2 separate regions of the Homo sapiens genome follow, and region 1 is linked to region 2. Evidence: fine-mapped expression QTL. Tissue or cell type: whole blood. Region 2 holds a variant in brackets; the other region holds the start of a gene. All regions are shown on one strand. Distances are between the middles of the regions.

Region 1 (8,106 bases), 470 kb before region 2:
AAATCCTGTCTCCACTAAAAATACAAAAATTAGCTGGGCATGGTAGTGAGTGCCTATAATCCCAGCTACATGGGAGGCTGAGGCAGGAGAATTGCTTGAACCCAGGAGGCGGAGGTTGCAGTGAGCGGAGATTGCACCACTGCACTCCAGCCTGGGTGACAGAGCAAGACTCCATCTCAAAAACATTAATAATAAATAAATAAATAAATTACCTGAAAATGGCTGAGATAATTAATACTGGGACTCATTTAGCCACTTCAGCAATATTAGCGGCCAGAGGAGGTGAGGAGACATGATGGTGAGAGGGCTCCTTCCTGCGTCAACCATGCGCATTATGAAGAGTCACATCATGAAGATTCAGTATTGGACTAAGTGCTGCAGGAGAGGGGAAGGACCATGGCAGCTCCCAGGAAGAGGAAATGACATCTGGGTAAGATAACTGTTAAAGAAAAAAAATAATCAATAGCATTTGTTAAAGCATGGTACCAGACTTTATTCACAACCATCATGATAGGTACAGGGACCACTGCAACGGGATCTTGCAGCAGGGGAGAGAGATTGGGCTCAACTCCGAAAACAGCATGGGCAAGTGGGCATTTATAGCCAAGGACTGGGGGAGGGGTCAGTGGATGGACAGTTACTAAGAGGACACTTCAGGGGTCCAGGTGATTGTGTCTAAACCACCTCATAGGATTCCTGTTGAAGGCAGGCCAGGGTGATTGGACAGCATGGGGGATGGTGGAGCATGGGGAGCCTGATCAGATGTCACCAAGGGGGATCAGACATCAGGGGCAGGGAATCCTGCTAAATTGACAAAGCAGGGATTGCTAAAACAGATGTCACAGGGAAGTGTATGATGGCCCTACAAGGCTCAGAAGCCTGACTAGAGTTTGGTCAAAGAATTTTTGTCAGGATCATGGAAAATTTAATAAAGTGTAGCTATGAAAGAAAGGACTTAAAATTTATTTAACCAGAGTAACAAAGAATTAAAAGTCAATCCAGTAAGAGAATATATAGGCCTTAAATCAGCATCCATTAGTGAAGTCTGTGGCCTCTAGTTTTTCTTACTAAAACTTACTCCACTTACAAAAGAAATATTGTGGAAAAAACAGGAAATACAAAATGTATGGAGAAAATAAGATAACCCCCCTGATAATTCTTCCATTCAGAAATAACCAGTGTTTAGGTTTGGATATACACCTGTGTTTCTAACACAGTAGTCCCTAGCCACATGTGGTTATTTAATTTAAATTTAAATTGACTAAATGAAAGTAATATTCAAATCATTACTGTCATTTCTGCATTACATCCTTATTTTTGTGTTTCATTTATCAGTATTGTGTCATCAATCACACCTTCCTAGCTAGCTATTAAAACAGTCATTCCTTTTAGCAGCACAATGGTTTATGATATTAACTTTGAGCACAGATACATTTTTCTGGGCTTGTGCAGTGGAGCAGGGCTTGGCTGGGGTGAACCTTGGCTGTTTCCCTTATTAGCTGTGTGGGCTTAGGGAAGAGTTAACTTCTCTGTGGCTCACCTTCTCCATTGTCAAGCGGGGGTAATAGCAGGCTATTTGCAGGGATCAGGAGTTAATACGTGTACACTGCAAGTAATGATCAATAAGTGTCAGCGCCTCCATTCTTTGCCAGGTGTGCACCACAGCTGGGGGATTAAACTTTACCACACCACAGCAGATAACATATTTGCATAACTTGCTTTTTGTCTTCTTAAGCTTTCCTTGAACTCAATTCCCCAGAGTGGTAGAAGTGGTCATAGGGCACTATCATTTTTATGACTTCTGAATTGCCAGATCACCCTCAGAGAGATTGCATCAGTGTTCGGAGCTTGCAGCCAAGCTCGACCCCACAGCCCTGCCATCTGTGCCCGAAGTTCGATCTTGTTGGCTCCAGAATCCCTAGGACATAGTGCAGGAGTGAATCCCGAGCTGGAGCTGGGTGGGCTGTGGGGTCATTCCAGATTGATTAACCTCCGACCTCTGAAGTCTGCAGCTGGAAGGGGCTCCAGGTAAGAAGATAACTTTGAAGCATCACACCAGGAAACCTACTGCACCTGGACTTTCATGACATTTCCTGCGGGCAATTTTTACCTCCACGAAATTCAGTAACCTTTGCAGCCCCTTCAGCCCAAGACCACCAGGAGCAAACCTGTGGTCCACAAAATCGGGTGTACTGACCCACTGCAATGAGGGAGCGCCTCCCAAGAACGAAGGGAAAGGCAGAGTTTGAAGGGGTTGAGGGAAGGCAGAGTTTAGGTGACCTTTACATGAAGCAGGGTTCCCACAGGCTGAGGCCAGCAGGACTGTGTTCCGCGGGGCCAAGTGTGGGAAGCTGTGTGCAGACGCCCCCTATCTGGAGCTGCAGCCTGGATTGGGATGACAGAGGCTAAGTCTCGGTTAGTGGCTGAGCTCCCCGGCCAGACGGGCATGTTTCCTTCTCCCTGCTGTAATCTCAAAGCGGACAGCGTCTGCCAGGTGGTTTCGGGAACAGGGTTTCTCCGAGGGCTAGGGGGCTGCGGTCCCTCCGAGGCGGGGTCGTGGTGGCATTTGGCTGTGGCTGCCTCGCGCCCTCGGGAACGGGCGTCTCCAGCTCGCTGGCAGCTGGTTTTCTCCACGTCTGTCATCGGCCTGGAGTGGCAAGCAAATAGCTGGTATTTTCAGAGCCGCCCTGCCCCGGACAGAGAAGACCGGGCCCAGCAGGCGTTGGTGGATGCCTTTCAAGCTGTAATCAGTTTCCCCGAACGTGTACCAGGTCTCGGCCACAGCCCGAGCCCAGCGCGCTCCCGCGGGGCACCTGGTGACCCGGTGCAGGGCGGGAGGGCCGGTCCCAGGAACCCGAGGGCCGGAGGGCAGGGCCCCCTTCCCGCACCGTCCCCGGGCTGGCAGGAGCGGCCACGACGGCACGCTCCGAGGCCCCGGGTCCCTTGCCCCCTCCAGTCGCTCCCACTTTCTGCCGGGCTTGCCCAACGAGGGGGCAAACACCACGCTCAGGTGGCGTGGACAGGTCGCTGCCGCCTCGGACTACACCAGAGATCTCAGCTATGAGCCTGGACGCCCGCCCCGCCCTCCCGAGGCCCCGCCCCGCCCCCCGAGGCCCCGCCCCGGCGCGGCGCGCAGGCGCGGTCCATCCCGCCCGCAGAGCCGCAGTGCCGGGCGCCAGAGCAGCGGCGCCAGAGCAGCTGCACCATCCCGGCGTTCGCGTGTGCCGCCGCTTTCCTCCTCCATCTCTTTTCCTCCGCCTCCGCCGGCGCGATGGCGAAGCCGCTGACGGACAGCGAGAAGCGGAAGCAGATCAGCGTGCGCGGCCTGGCGGGGCTAGGCGACGTGGCCGAGGTGCGGAAGAGCTTCAACCGGCACTTGCACTTCACGCTGGTCAAGGACCGCAATGTGGCCACGCCCCGCGACTACTTCTTCGCGCTGGCGCACACGGTGCGCGACCACCTCGTGGGCCGCTGGATCCGCACGCAGCAGCACTACTACGAGCGCGACCCCAAGGTGAGGCGCTGCCCCGCCCTGTGCGCCCGTGCCCGCTGAGAGGGCGCCGGTCCCGGAGCCGCGCCAGCGGGGGTCTCTGCGGGGCGGCCCGTCGGGCGTTACCTGCGCCCCTAGCCGGCCGGCGGCCAGGCACAGCCGACTGGGGAGTCGCCTGGAAGCCGCAGTCGGCGGGGCCCGGGCGTCCCCTGCGCAGGGCCGCGGCCACGGGTCCGCCCCACTGGGAGCCCGCGCCTGGCGGGGTCCGCCGTCCCCCGCAGATGATGCTGAGCCCGGGAGCCTGGCGGACGTTCCCGGTCTCTTTCTGGCCGTGCGCTTCCGCGCTGGCTGCAGAGCCGGTGCTCCCCGCCCCTGCCTCCAGCCACTCTTTGTTTTCCTGCAGCAGCCTGTGGGAGAAAATGGGACTGGAACCAGGCCTGGGCAGCCTTGTGGGTTGGAATGGGGTGAGCTCGGTAATCTGCAGGGAATTGTGAGACTTTTTTTTGTGTACGCTGCTTAGAAGAAAATCACTGAAGATGCCTGCTTCACGCAGGGAGGGGTACGAAGCTCAGAGATGGAGATGGAGCCCTCGAAGAAGGCTCTGTCTTAGAGGTTCCCACACCTCCCTTGGAGAAATTTGCTTGGGTTGAAGTTGACAGAGATCATCTTACTAATTGTTACTTTTTATATCTTGCAAAAATTTGTTTGAGTAGTGAAACAAAGTCACTGATTGTCCCCGTTACTCTTAACCATGTTTACTATGGGCCTGTGTTCTTGCTGTGTTTTTGGTATTCCTAAATATACATACACATTTTTAAAAAGTATAATGCACATACAGTTTTTTAGATTTTCTGTTTCATTCGTAAACATTTGTAACTTTTTCACTGATAAACAGCTTTGCAGGTCAATGGATAGGATGGTAGTTTTCAGTTTGATAGGTACATGGTAGTCTTGCACAGCCCCCTGTTGCCAGTTTTTTGTTGTTGTCGTTTGCTTTTAAACTCTTGACCATGGAGAATTGTCTTTCTACTACACTAACGTAGAGGGAGAACTGGTGAGGAAAAGACACACTTCCAGACCTGAAGCCACTTGGCAAAGATTTTACTTGCAGTGTACATCTAGGCAGTGAGCACTTGCTTTATGGATGGTATTTTAGAATATTTTTGTAGGGCATTAAGATATGTTTAATACGGTAATTGCTAAGAGATTGACTGCTTTTCCAAACTTATTCTGGGACATTCTTTTTTCTAAAATGGAGATGGTAAAAGGGACAGATTTGTTAGAATACCAACTGGGGCTCTTCATATTTGGTATGCAAAACATAGAAGTGGCAACGAATGGCCAAAACAGGTTATAACAAGGGCTTGGGATGACTTTGCCAGGAAAAGCAGCCAAGAAGCAGTGGCTCCCCCAGAATTCCCTGCTGTTGGGAGAGTTCTGATGCACAGCACCATTTTTTTTTTTTTTTTAATTCTGAGTCTTGCCCTGTAGCGTGAAGCTAGAGTGCAGTGGCGCGATCTCGGCTCAGTGCAACCTCCGCCTCCCGGGTTCAAGCAATTCTCCTGCCTTAGCCTCCCAAGTAGCTGGGATTACAGGCGCCTACCACCACGCCCGGCTAATTTTTTGTATCTTTAGTAGAGACGGGGTTTCACCATGTTGGCCAGGCTGGTCTCAAACTCCTGACCTCGTGATCCGCCCGCCTCGGCCTCCCAAAGTGCAGGAGTTACAGGCGTGAGCCAACGCACCCGACCCGCAACATCATTTTTATTGTCTAAGTGGCGGATGGCAAGGACATAGCTCTGCCTTCACATTCAAGGGCATTTCCTTGGAGCTGGACCAGGACTCAGCTCTACACCTTAGGGTGCCCATTGGAGTATTTATGTATAATCACATCCTGGAGAGGCCAGCGATGGGCTCAGGGATTACGGAAATGACCTTCATGAACAAGATAGTCCCTGCAACAAAACAGGTTTTTTGATCCTCCGTGAGATCTCTTTTGATTGTCTACGTGTGGTGGCTCTGGGTGGAAACCTTTCTCTTAAACCGCACAGTCTGTAAGTCGTAAAGTTGTAAACTTTTAGATCTCACAGTGTGTAAATAAGCTGTGTGCCTATTCTGAATAGGAAGGACATGGAAAATTGGGATTTAACTGCTTCTTTCGCTAATTCATGATGAAAATAAGCTTGCAATCCTTTCTTTGGAAAAGTTACATGCTTGCTGGTGATGGACCAGCAACCAGTCCCACCAGAGCCAATGAGAGGAGGTGTGCTCCCAAGAAAATAACTGCTGTGCCTCCCCCTCAGCCAGAAATGACCTCAGACATTCACCGGCACACTGCAGACTGTGGTAATGTGACACTCTAGAGCTCCTAAATAGAACGCTTTTATTGTTATTTTTGTCTTTTTTTAAATTATGCAAGTCCTGAAGGAAAAATTATTACTGGAGGAAAAATTAGAAAATATAGATAAGCCAGAAGGAAAAAAATTAACTGTAATCCTGTAACCCACTTCTATCGCCCACTTTGTGCTGTAAATATTTTGTGTTCTACATTGTTTTTTCCGTATTGGCAGAAACTTGTTTTTAATACATAAAATAACATTATACTGAACCTATTGTTTCATAACTCTTAGCACTTTATTTGTGGTACATAGCGAAAGAGTAGAAGTTGGGGTGTTCAGAGGAAGATTTGTCAAGCTTTGCCATGCTTGGCAAATCAGCACGTCAAAACATCTGGCTAACATGGAGAGCTTTGTGCTTGGCAAGAGGTGGCGGTTGGTCATGAAGACATTTAATGGATTCTCTGAAGTGGTGGCAAGGTGGCAAGGAGAGTCCAACCTGAAGCTGCAGAGCCTGGGATTGCGCTGCATGGAGAAGAAAGGGTGTGCGTGATTCCACGCTCCTTTTCATCCTGGCCTTTCCATTCGGTCTGTGCAACTGTGGGCTTGGGCGGATTTCTTTGCCATTATTGGCCTCAGTTTTCTCATCTTTAAAATGAGGGGAATCAAGCTGGTGATGTTTCCGAAGTCTGTTGCCATTCTGAAATGTTAGAGTTAAAATGTTTCTATTTCATATTGAATTGACATTCCATCTCTATCCAGAGAGAATTTGAGGATGCTTATGCTAGATACAGCACAAAAGGTTCACATTAGAAGGCCTCAGAGTGAGGGTTGGGGTGGGACAGTGAGGGTCAGGACACAAAACACAGACCAGGATCCTGGCAGTGAAAGCAGCCCATGCCCAGTTATGAGAGTCACGGGATCCCTTCTATAACATCCTGAAAGGACAGTTGCACGGTTTATTCTGTGGGCCTTTGTGAAGCTGTGTTGTCGATGTGCTGAGCCACTGACCTGCAGCACCCCTGCAGTGGATGTAACAATCAGTTTTTGAGACTCTTCCCATAAGCTCCTGGCATGACTACAACACAGATTAAGGAAAAGCAGCTCTACCTTGGGGCCCACACTGCTGTCCTAAATATTCCTAATGAGATAAACACAATGAAATACGATTAATCTTTTGGTTTGGCTGGACCCAGGAGTTAAAGAAGATGATCTAGAGAAGTGTTTTGCAGACCCTTCTGCTCTGTGATCCCCACTTCTGGGATTTGTTTTAATTAGTCAGTTGTGGTACCAGCCTCCGGAATCCTAACACTCCCAATTTTTCTGATGTATTTCCACTTTTATGTGTGAAGTTGAGCTTGCATCTCCTGGGCAGGCTTCCCTGACAGCAGATCGCTCAAAGTCATTTTCTCTGACCAGTAGCTGATGGTGGGTGCTGTTTTGTGTTGCTGACAGCTAGCCACTTGGAAGGTAGGCCTCAGCTGTCATTTTAGCAGATGGAGAAGCCTACAGTGTGTGCCTTCATTTTCTGCAGAAGACAGCCTGGCCTCTGCCCTTGCAGGCTGTGGTGGCTGGTTTTATGTGTCAACTTGGCTGTTGTGCCTAGATAGTAACGTGGATGTCCCTCTGGGGGGGTCGGGGGGTGGTGTTTCCCACACTGACTGAGCATCTTACAATTCAGTTCCGTTCTGATGCTGTCTACCTAGATGTAGCCTCGGATCCCACAGGCTAAAGGCTCAGTCCCACAAGACTTCTCCACCCCAGATGTCAGTTGCACATCAGGACCTCCCTTCTGACCTCTGACCGACAGCCTCCTCAGGTTTGATGATTTGCCAGAATGGCTCATGAAACTCAGGGAAACACTTCACTTGCGTTTACCAATTACTTACAAGGAATACAACCCAGGAACAGCCAGATAGAAGATATGCAGAGGGCAGGTCTGAGGGAGGGTGCAGGGGCTTCCATTCCCTCTGCAGGTGCCACTGTCCCAGCACCTCCAGGATTCACTGAACTGGAAGGAAGCTCTTCCATCCCCTTCAGTTGGGGATTTTATGGAGGCCGCAGTTACCTAGTGTGATTATTGGCCATTGGTGATGAGCTCAGCCTTTAGCCCCTCTCCCTTCACTGGAGGTTGGGGCTGGCGGGAGGGGTGGGCCTGAAACTTCCAACCCTCTAATTAGAGCTGGTTCCCCTGGCAGCCAGCCTCTGCCCTGAGGGGCTTGCCAAAAGTCACCTTTTGGTGACCACATCAGGCGTGGTTGAAAGGGACTTGTTATGAAT
Region 2 (8,106 bases):
GAACCAACCTTGCATCCCAGGGATGAAGCCCACTTGATCATGGTGGATAAGCTTTTTAATGTGCTGCTGGGTTCGGTTTGCCAGTATTTTATTGAGGATTTTTGCATCAATGTTCATCAAGGATATTGGTCTAAAATTCTCTTTTTTGGTTGTGTCTCTGCCCGGCTTTGGTATCAGGATGATCCTGGCCTCATAAAATGAGTTAGGGAGGATTCCCTCTTTTTCTATTGATTGGAATAGTTTCAGAAGGAATGGTACCAGTTCCTCCTTGTACCTCTGGTAGAATTCAGCTGTGAATCCATCTGGTCCTGGACTCTGTTAGGTTGGTAAGCTATTGATTGTTGCCACAATTTCAGCTCCTGTTATTGGTCTATTCAGAGATTGAATTTCTTCCTGGTTTAGTCTTCGGAGGGTGTATGTGTCGAGGAATATATCCATTTCTTCTAGATTTTCTAGTTTATTTTCATAGAGGTGTTTGTAATGTTCTCTGATGGTAGTTTGTATTTCTGTGGGATCAGTGGTGATATCCCCTTTATCGTTTTTTATTGCGTCTATTTGATTCTTCTCTCTTTTCTTCTTTATTAGTCTTGCTAGTGGTCTATCAATTTTGTTGATCCTTTCGAAAAACCAGCTCCTGGATTCATTAATTTTTTGAAGGGTTGTTTGTGTCTCTATTTCCTGCAGTTCTGCTCTGATTTTAGTTATTTCTTGCCTTCTGCTAGCTTTTGAATGTGTTTGCTCTTGCTTTTCTAGTTCTTTTAATTGTGATGTTAGGGTGTCAATTTTGGATCTTTCCTGCTTTCTCTTGTGGGTATTTAGTGCTATAAATTTCCCTCTACACACTGCTTTGAATGTGTCCCAGAGATTCTGGTATGTTGTGTCTTTGTTCTCGTTGGTTTCAAAGAACATCTTTATTTCTGCCTTCATTTTGTTATGTACCCAGTAGTAATTCAGGAGCAGGTTGTTCAGTTTCCATGTAGTTGAGTGGTTTTGAGTGGGTTTCTTAATCGTGAGTTCTAGTTTGATTGCACTGTGGTCTGAGAGACAGTTTGTTATAATTTCTGTTCTTTTACATTTGCTGAGGAGAGCTTTACTTCCCAGTATGTGGTCAATTTTGGAATAGGTGTGGTGTGGTGCTGAAAGAAATGTGTATTTTGTTGATTTGGGGTGGAGAGTTCTGTAGATGTCCATTAGGTCTGCTTGGTGCAGAGCTGAGTTCAATTCCTGGGTATCCTTCTTAACTTTCTGTCTCGTTGATCTGTCTAATGTTGACAGTGGGGTGTTAAAGTCTCCCATTATTATTGTGTGGGAGTCTAAGTCTCTTTGTAGGTCACTCAGGACTTGCTTTATGAATCTGGGTGCTCCTGTATTGGGTGCATATATATTTAGGATAGTTAGCTCTTCTTGTTGATTTGATCCCTTTACCACTATGCAATGGCCTTCTTTGTCTCTTTTGTTCTTTGTTGGTTTAAAGTCTGTTTTATCAGAGACTAGGATTGCAACCCTGCCTTTTTTTGTTTTCCATTTGCTTGGTAGATCTTCCTCCATCCTTTTGTTTTGAGCCTATCTGTGTCTCTGCACGTGAGATGGGTTTCATGAATACAGCACACTGATGGGTCTTGACTCTTTATCCAATTTGCCAGTCTGTGTCTTTTATTTGGAGCATTTATTCCATTTACATTTAAAGTTAATATTGCTTTGTGTGAATTTGATCCTGTCATTATGATGTTAGCTGGTTATTTTGCTCGTTAGTTAATGCAGTTTCTTCCTAGCCTTGATGGTCTTTACAATTTGGCATGATTTTGCAGTGGCTGTTACCGGTTGTTCCTTTCCATGTTTAGTGCTTCCTTCAGGAGCTCTTTTAGGGCAGGCCTGGTGGTGACAAAATCTCTCAACATTTGCTTTTCTGTAAAGTATTTTATTTCTCCTTCACTTATGAAGCTTAGTTTGGCTGGATATGAAATTCTGGGTTGAAAATTCTTTTCTTTAAGAATGTTGAATGTTGGCCCTCACTGTCTTCTGGCTTGTTGAGTTTCTGTGAAGGGATCAGCAGTTAGTCTCATGGGCTTCCCTTTGTGGGTATCCCGACCTTTCTCTCTGGCTTCCCTTAACATTTTTTCCTTCATTTCAACTTTGGTGAACCTGACAATTATGTGTCTTGGAGTTGCTCTTCTCGAGGAGTATCTTTGTGGTATTCTCTGTATTTCCTGAATCTGAATGCTGGCTTGCCTTGCTAGATTGGGTAAGTTCTCCTGGATAATATCCTGCAGAGCGTTTTCCAACTTGGTTCCATTCTCCCCATCACTTTCAGGTACACCAGTCAGATGTAGATTTGGTCTTTTCACATAGTCCCATATTTCTTGGAGGCTTTATTCATTTCTTTTTATTGTTTTTTCTCTAAACTTCCCTTCTCGCTTCATTTCATTCATTTCATCTTCCATCACTGATACCCTTTCTTCCATTTGATTGCATCGGCTCCTGAGGCTTCTGCATTCTTCACGTAGTTCTTGAGCCTTGGCTTTCAGCATCTTCAGCTCCTTTAAGCACTTCTCTGTATTGGTTATTCTAGTTATACATTCGTCTTAATTTTTTTCAAAGTTTTTAACTTCTTTGCCTTTGGTTTGAATTTCCTCCTGTAGCTCAGAGTAGTTTTGTCATCTGAAGCTTTCTTCTCTCAACTCATCAAAGTCATTCTCCGTCCAGCTTTGTTTCATTGCTGGTGAGGAACTGCATTCCTTTGGAGGAGGAGAGGTGCTCTGCTTTTTAGAGTTTCCAGTTTTTCCAATTTTTCTGCTCTGTTTTTTCCCCATCTTTGTGGTTTTATCTGCTTTTGGTCTTTGATGATGGTGATGTACAGATGGGTTTTTGATGTGGATGTCCTTTCTGTTTGTTAGTTTTCCTTCTGACAGACAGGACCCTCAGCTGCAGGTCTGTTGGAGTTTGCTAGAAGTCCACTCCAGACCTTGTTTGCCTGGGTACCAGCAGCGGTGGCTGCAGAATAGCAGATTTTCGTGAACCGTGAATGCTGCTGTCTGATCTTTCCTCTGGAAGTTTTGTCTCAGAGGAGTACCCGGCCGTGTGAGGTGTCAGTCTGCCCCTACTGGGGGTGTCTCCCAGTTAGGCTGCTCGGGGGTCAGGGTTCAGGGACCCACTTGAGGAGTCAGTCTGCCCGTTCTCAGATCTCCAGCTGTGTGCTGGGAGAACCACTGCTCTCTTCAAAGCTGTCAGACAGGGACATTTAAGTCTGCAGAGGTTCCTGCTGTCTTTTTGTTTGTCTGTGCCCTGCCCCCAGAGGTGGAGCCTACAGAGGCAGGCAGGCCTCCTTGAGCTGTGGTGGGCTCCACCCAGTTCGAGTTTCCTGGCTGCTTTGTTTGCCTAAGCAAGCCTGGGCAATGGCAGGCGCTCCTCCCCCAGCCTCACTGTCGCCTTGCAGTTTGATCTCAGACTGCTGTGCTAGCAATCAGC[G/A]AGACTCCATGGGCATAGGACCCTCCAAGCCAGGTGTGGGATATAATCTTCTGTTGTGCCGTTTTTTAAGCCTGTCCGAAAAGTGCAGCATTAGGGTGGGAGTGACCCAATTTTCCAGATGCCATCTGTCACCCCTTTCTTTGACTAGGAAAGGGAACTCCTTGACCCTTTGCGCTTCCCAAGTGAGGCAATGCCTCGCCCTGCTTCAGCTCGTGCACGGTGCACTGCACCCATTGTCCTGTGCCCACTCTCTGGCACTCCCTAGTGAGATGAACCCGGTACCTCAGATGGAAATGCAGAAATCACCCATCTTCTGCATCGCTCACGTTGGGAGCTGTAGACCAGAGCTGTTCCTGTTCAGTCATCTTGGCTCCATCCATCCCAAAGACCCATTTTTCTTGTTTTATCTACCTTTGGTCTTTGATGCTGGTGACCAACAGATGGGGTTTTGCTGTGGATGTCCCTTTTGTTGATGTTGATGCTATTCCTTTCTGTTTGTCAGTTTTCCTTCTAAGAGTCAGGTCCCTCAGCTGCAGGTCTGTTGGAGTTTGCTGGAGGTCCACTCCAGACCCTCTTTGCCTGGATATCACTAGGAGAGGCTGCAGCACAGCAAATATTGCAGAACAGCAAATGTTGCTGCCTGATCCTTCCTCTGGAAGCTTCATCCCAGAGGGGCACCCTCCTGTATGATGTGTCAGTTGGCCCCTACTGGGAGGTGTCTCCCAGTTTGGCTACATGCGTGTCAGGGACCCACTTGAGGAGGCAGTCTATCCATTCTCAGAGCTCAAACACCATGCTGGGAGAACCACTTCTCTCTTCAGAGCTGTCAGACAGGGATATTTAAGTCTGCAGAAGTTTCTGCTGTCTTTTGTTTAGCTATTCCCCACCCCCAGAGGTGGGGTCTACAGAGGCAGCAGGCCTTGCAGAGCTGCGGTGGGCTCTGCCCCGTTCAAGCTTCCCAGGCCACTTTGTTTACCTACTCACGCCTGAGCAATGGCGGACACCTCTCCCACTGCCAGACTGCTGCCTCACAGGTCGATCTCAGACTGCTGCTGTAGCAGTGAGCAAGGCTCTGTGGGTGTGGGTCCTGCCAAGCCAGGTGCGAGATATAATCTCTGGGTGTGCCATTTGCTAAGACTGTAGGTAAAGCACAGTATTTGTGTGAGGGTGTCCGGATTTTCTAGGTTCAGTCTGACTTGGCTTCCCTTGGCTGGGAAAGGGAAATCCCCTGACCCCTTGCACTTCCCAGGTAAGGTGATGCACCACCCTGCTTTGGCTCACCCTCCATGGGCTGCATCCACTGTCCAACCAGTCCCAGTAAGATGAACCAGGTACCTCAGTTGGAAATGCAGAAATTGCCATCTTCTGCATTGATCATGCTGGGAGCTGCAGACGGGAGCTGTTCCTATTCGGCTGTCTTGGAGCAGAATCCTGGCTTATGTTTTTTTTTCAATGGGAGCCTCCAATCACCATAAAAGATTATGTACCTTACATAGTTGTACTTGTTATACTTTTTAATTTTTATTTTTCATTTCTTTAGTAGGTACAAGTGCAGATTTCTTACATGCATATATTGCATACTGTTGGGTAGACTGGGCTTTTAGTGTACCCGTCACCTTAATAGTGATCACTGTACCCAATAGGTAAATTTTCAACCATCACCTCTCTCCCACCCTCCTATCTTTTGTAGTCTCCAATGCGTATTATTTCACTCTGTATGTCCATATGTATCAATTGTTTAGCTCTCATTTACAAGTGATGGCATGCAGTATTTGACTTTCTGTTTCTGAGTTTTTCACTTAAGATAATGGGCTTCAATACCATCAGTGTTGCTGCAAAAGACATGATTTTATGGCTGAGTAGTATTTTCTATATCCAGTTCTCCGCTGATGGACATGTATGTTTATTTCTTTTTTTGCAATTGTGAATAGGTCTGTGATAAACATGAGTGCAGGTATATTTTTGATATACTGATTTCTTTTCCTTTGGGTATATACCCAGTAATGGAATTGGATCAAATGGTAGTTCTGTTATTAGTTCTTTGAGAAATCTCCTTATTGTTTTCCGTAGAGGTTGTACTTATTTACATTTCTACCAACAGTATATAAGCATTACCTTTTCTTCACATCCTCATCAACATCTGTTTTGTTTTTTTTGACTTTTTAGTAATAGCCATTCTGACTGGTATAAGATTGTATTTTACTATTTTAATTTTTATTTCTCTGATGATTAGAAATATTGAGCATTTTTCATGTTTGTTGACTGCTTGTAGGTACTCTTTTGAAAAATGTCTGTTTGTATCCTTTGCCCGCTTTTTAATGGGGTTGTTTCTTGTTGTTTTGTTGTTAGAGTTCCTTGTAGATTCTGGATGTAAGCGCTTTGTTGGATGCATAGTTTGCAAATATATTTTCCCACTTTATAGGTTGTCTGTTTACTTTATTAATTATTTCTTTTGCTGTGCAGAAACTTTTTAGTTAAATTATCTCGTCTGTTTATTTTTATTGCATTTGCTTTTGAGGACTTGGTCATTAATTCTTTGCCTAGACCAATGTCTGGAAGGGTTTTTCCTAAGTTTTCTTCTAGGATTTCTGTGGTTTCAGGTCTTACACTTTGGTCTTTGATCCATATTGAGTTTATTTTTGTATATTTTGAGAGGTATGGGTCCAGTTTTATTATCCCATATGTGTTTATCCAATTTTACTGGCACCACTTATTTATAGGGTGTCATTTCCCCAGAATATATTTTTGTTGACTTTTTAAAAGATAAGTTGGTTGTAGGTATGGGGCTTTATTTCTGAGTTGTCTATTCTGCTCCATTGATCTATGTGTCTATGTTATGCCAGTACAATGCTGTTTTGGTTTCTATAGTTTTGTAGTATAATTTGAAAACAGGTAATGTGATGCCTCCAGCTTTGTTCTTCTTCCTTAGAATTGCTTTGGCTGTTCAGGCCCTTTTTTTGGTTCCATATTAATTTTAGGATTTTTTTTTCTAATTCTGTGAAAAATAACATTGGTAATTTGATAGGGATTGTGTTGAATCTGTAGTTTGCCTTGAACAGTATGGTCATTTTAATGATATTGCATATTCTAATTTATAAGCGTGGGGGTTTTTCATTTGTTTATGTCATCTAGGATTTTTTTCATCAGTGTTTTGTAGTTCTCCTTCTAGAAGTCTTTCAGCTTCTAGGTCAAAGATATTCCTCGGTATTTTTTTGTAGCTATTGTAAATGGGATTGTTTTCTTGATTTGGCCTTTGGCTGGCTCATTATTTGTGTATATAAACACTACTGATATTTGTACATTAATTTTGTATCCTGACGCTCACTGCTTCCTTTGTCAAATTTAAGAATTTTGGGCAGCATCTTTAGGGTTCTTCAGGAATAATATTATATCATCAGCAAACAGGGGTAACTTGACTTCCTCTTTTCCAATTTGGATGCATTTTATTTCTTTCTTCTGCCTGATTGCTCTGGCAAGAAATTCCAGTACTGTGTTGAATAAGAATAGTGAAAGTCGGCATCCTTGTATTGTTCTAGTTCTTACAGGAAATGCTTTCAACTTTCCCATATTAGATATGATGTTGTTGGGTACACATGGACACAAAGATGGGAAGAGTAGACATGGGACACTCTAAATTAGGGGAGGAAGGATGGGGAACAAGGGTTGGGAGATTACTTATTGGGTACTATGTTTGCTACTTGGGCAACAGATCATTAGAAGCCCAAACCTCAGCATCAGAAAATATACCCATATAAAAAACCTGCACAGGTACCCCTGAATCTAAAATTTTAAAAAACGAGATAGAATTATGAGATTAGGTAATGCATATTTTAGCCTTAGGATTGAGGTCTTTGCAAAAAGTAGGGAAAATGTCTTCTTACTCATTTCCTTATGCACAAAACATGTCCTCAGAAATATTTCTACTAGCATCATTAAATGTATTTTCAAATTTCTCTATTTAGGGCCCTGTGCTAGTTGCTAAGGATGTAGGTAAAACAAGTGAACAAGAAAATCCTGTTTTGAAAGGTCTTCTGATTCTAGTGGGAGAAAGAAAAAGAGTTTGATATTAATCAGCTGCCCTCTTGGAATAAGCAGAAATACTACCACATTCTTATAGATGAATGATACACAGGAGGATCTGAAGGGTTTCTATTTTTTAAAAAGTATGATGTTGGCTGTGGGTTTGTTGTATATAATCTTTATTATGTTGAAGTATATTTCTTCTATGCCTAGTTTGTTGAGGATTTTTATCATGAAGTGATGCTGAGTTTTATTGGATGCCTTTTCTGCATCTGTTGAGATGATCATATGGTTTTTGTTTCTAATTCTGTTGATGTGATATATCACACTTACTGATTTCCATATGTTAAACCATCCTTCCGCCCTTGGGATAAATTACACCTGATCGTGGTGTGGTATCTTTTTGATGTGCTGTTGGATTCCATTTTTTAGTGTTTTGTTGAGGATTCCCTGCTTATCTATGTTTTAGAATAGTTTCAAAAGAATAGGTATTAATTTTTTTTGTATGTTTGGTGTAATTTGGCTGTGAATCCTCCTGATCCTGGGATTTTTTTGTTGAGAGATTTTTTATTACTGATTTCAGTCTCACTACCAATTATTTGTCTCTTTGGGAATCCTCTT

What was found. PIP is the estimated chance that this variant, and not a neighbour inherited with it, causes the effect.
Region 1: it holds the start of PYGB, and the variant in region 2 is fine-mapped to the expression of PYGB in whole blood (TOPMed, PIP above 0.99).

Annotation. Positions count from the first base shown.
Region 1 is chr20:25,244,908-25,253,013 of GRCh38, forward strand. PYGB (glycogen phosphorylase B) reads left to right here and starts at 3,178. Exons shown (of 20, transcript NM_002862.4): 1 at 3,178-3,514. The coding sequence starts at 3,272. RefSeq lists silencers at 2,210-2,463, 2,482-2,561, 2,742-2,931, 2,942-3,131, 3,442-3,821 and an enhancer at 3,212-3,291.
Region 2 is chr20:25,715,975-25,724,080 of GRCh38, forward strand. All of the region lies in intron 1 of LOC107985400 (a long non-coding RNA gene), which reads left to right. Among named protein-coding and RNA genes, the nearest start is that of ZNF337, 23 kb to the left of the region's middle. RefSeq lists enhancers at 2,963-3,478, 3,479-3,994. The variant G/A (reference allele first, on the strand shown) is at 3,466.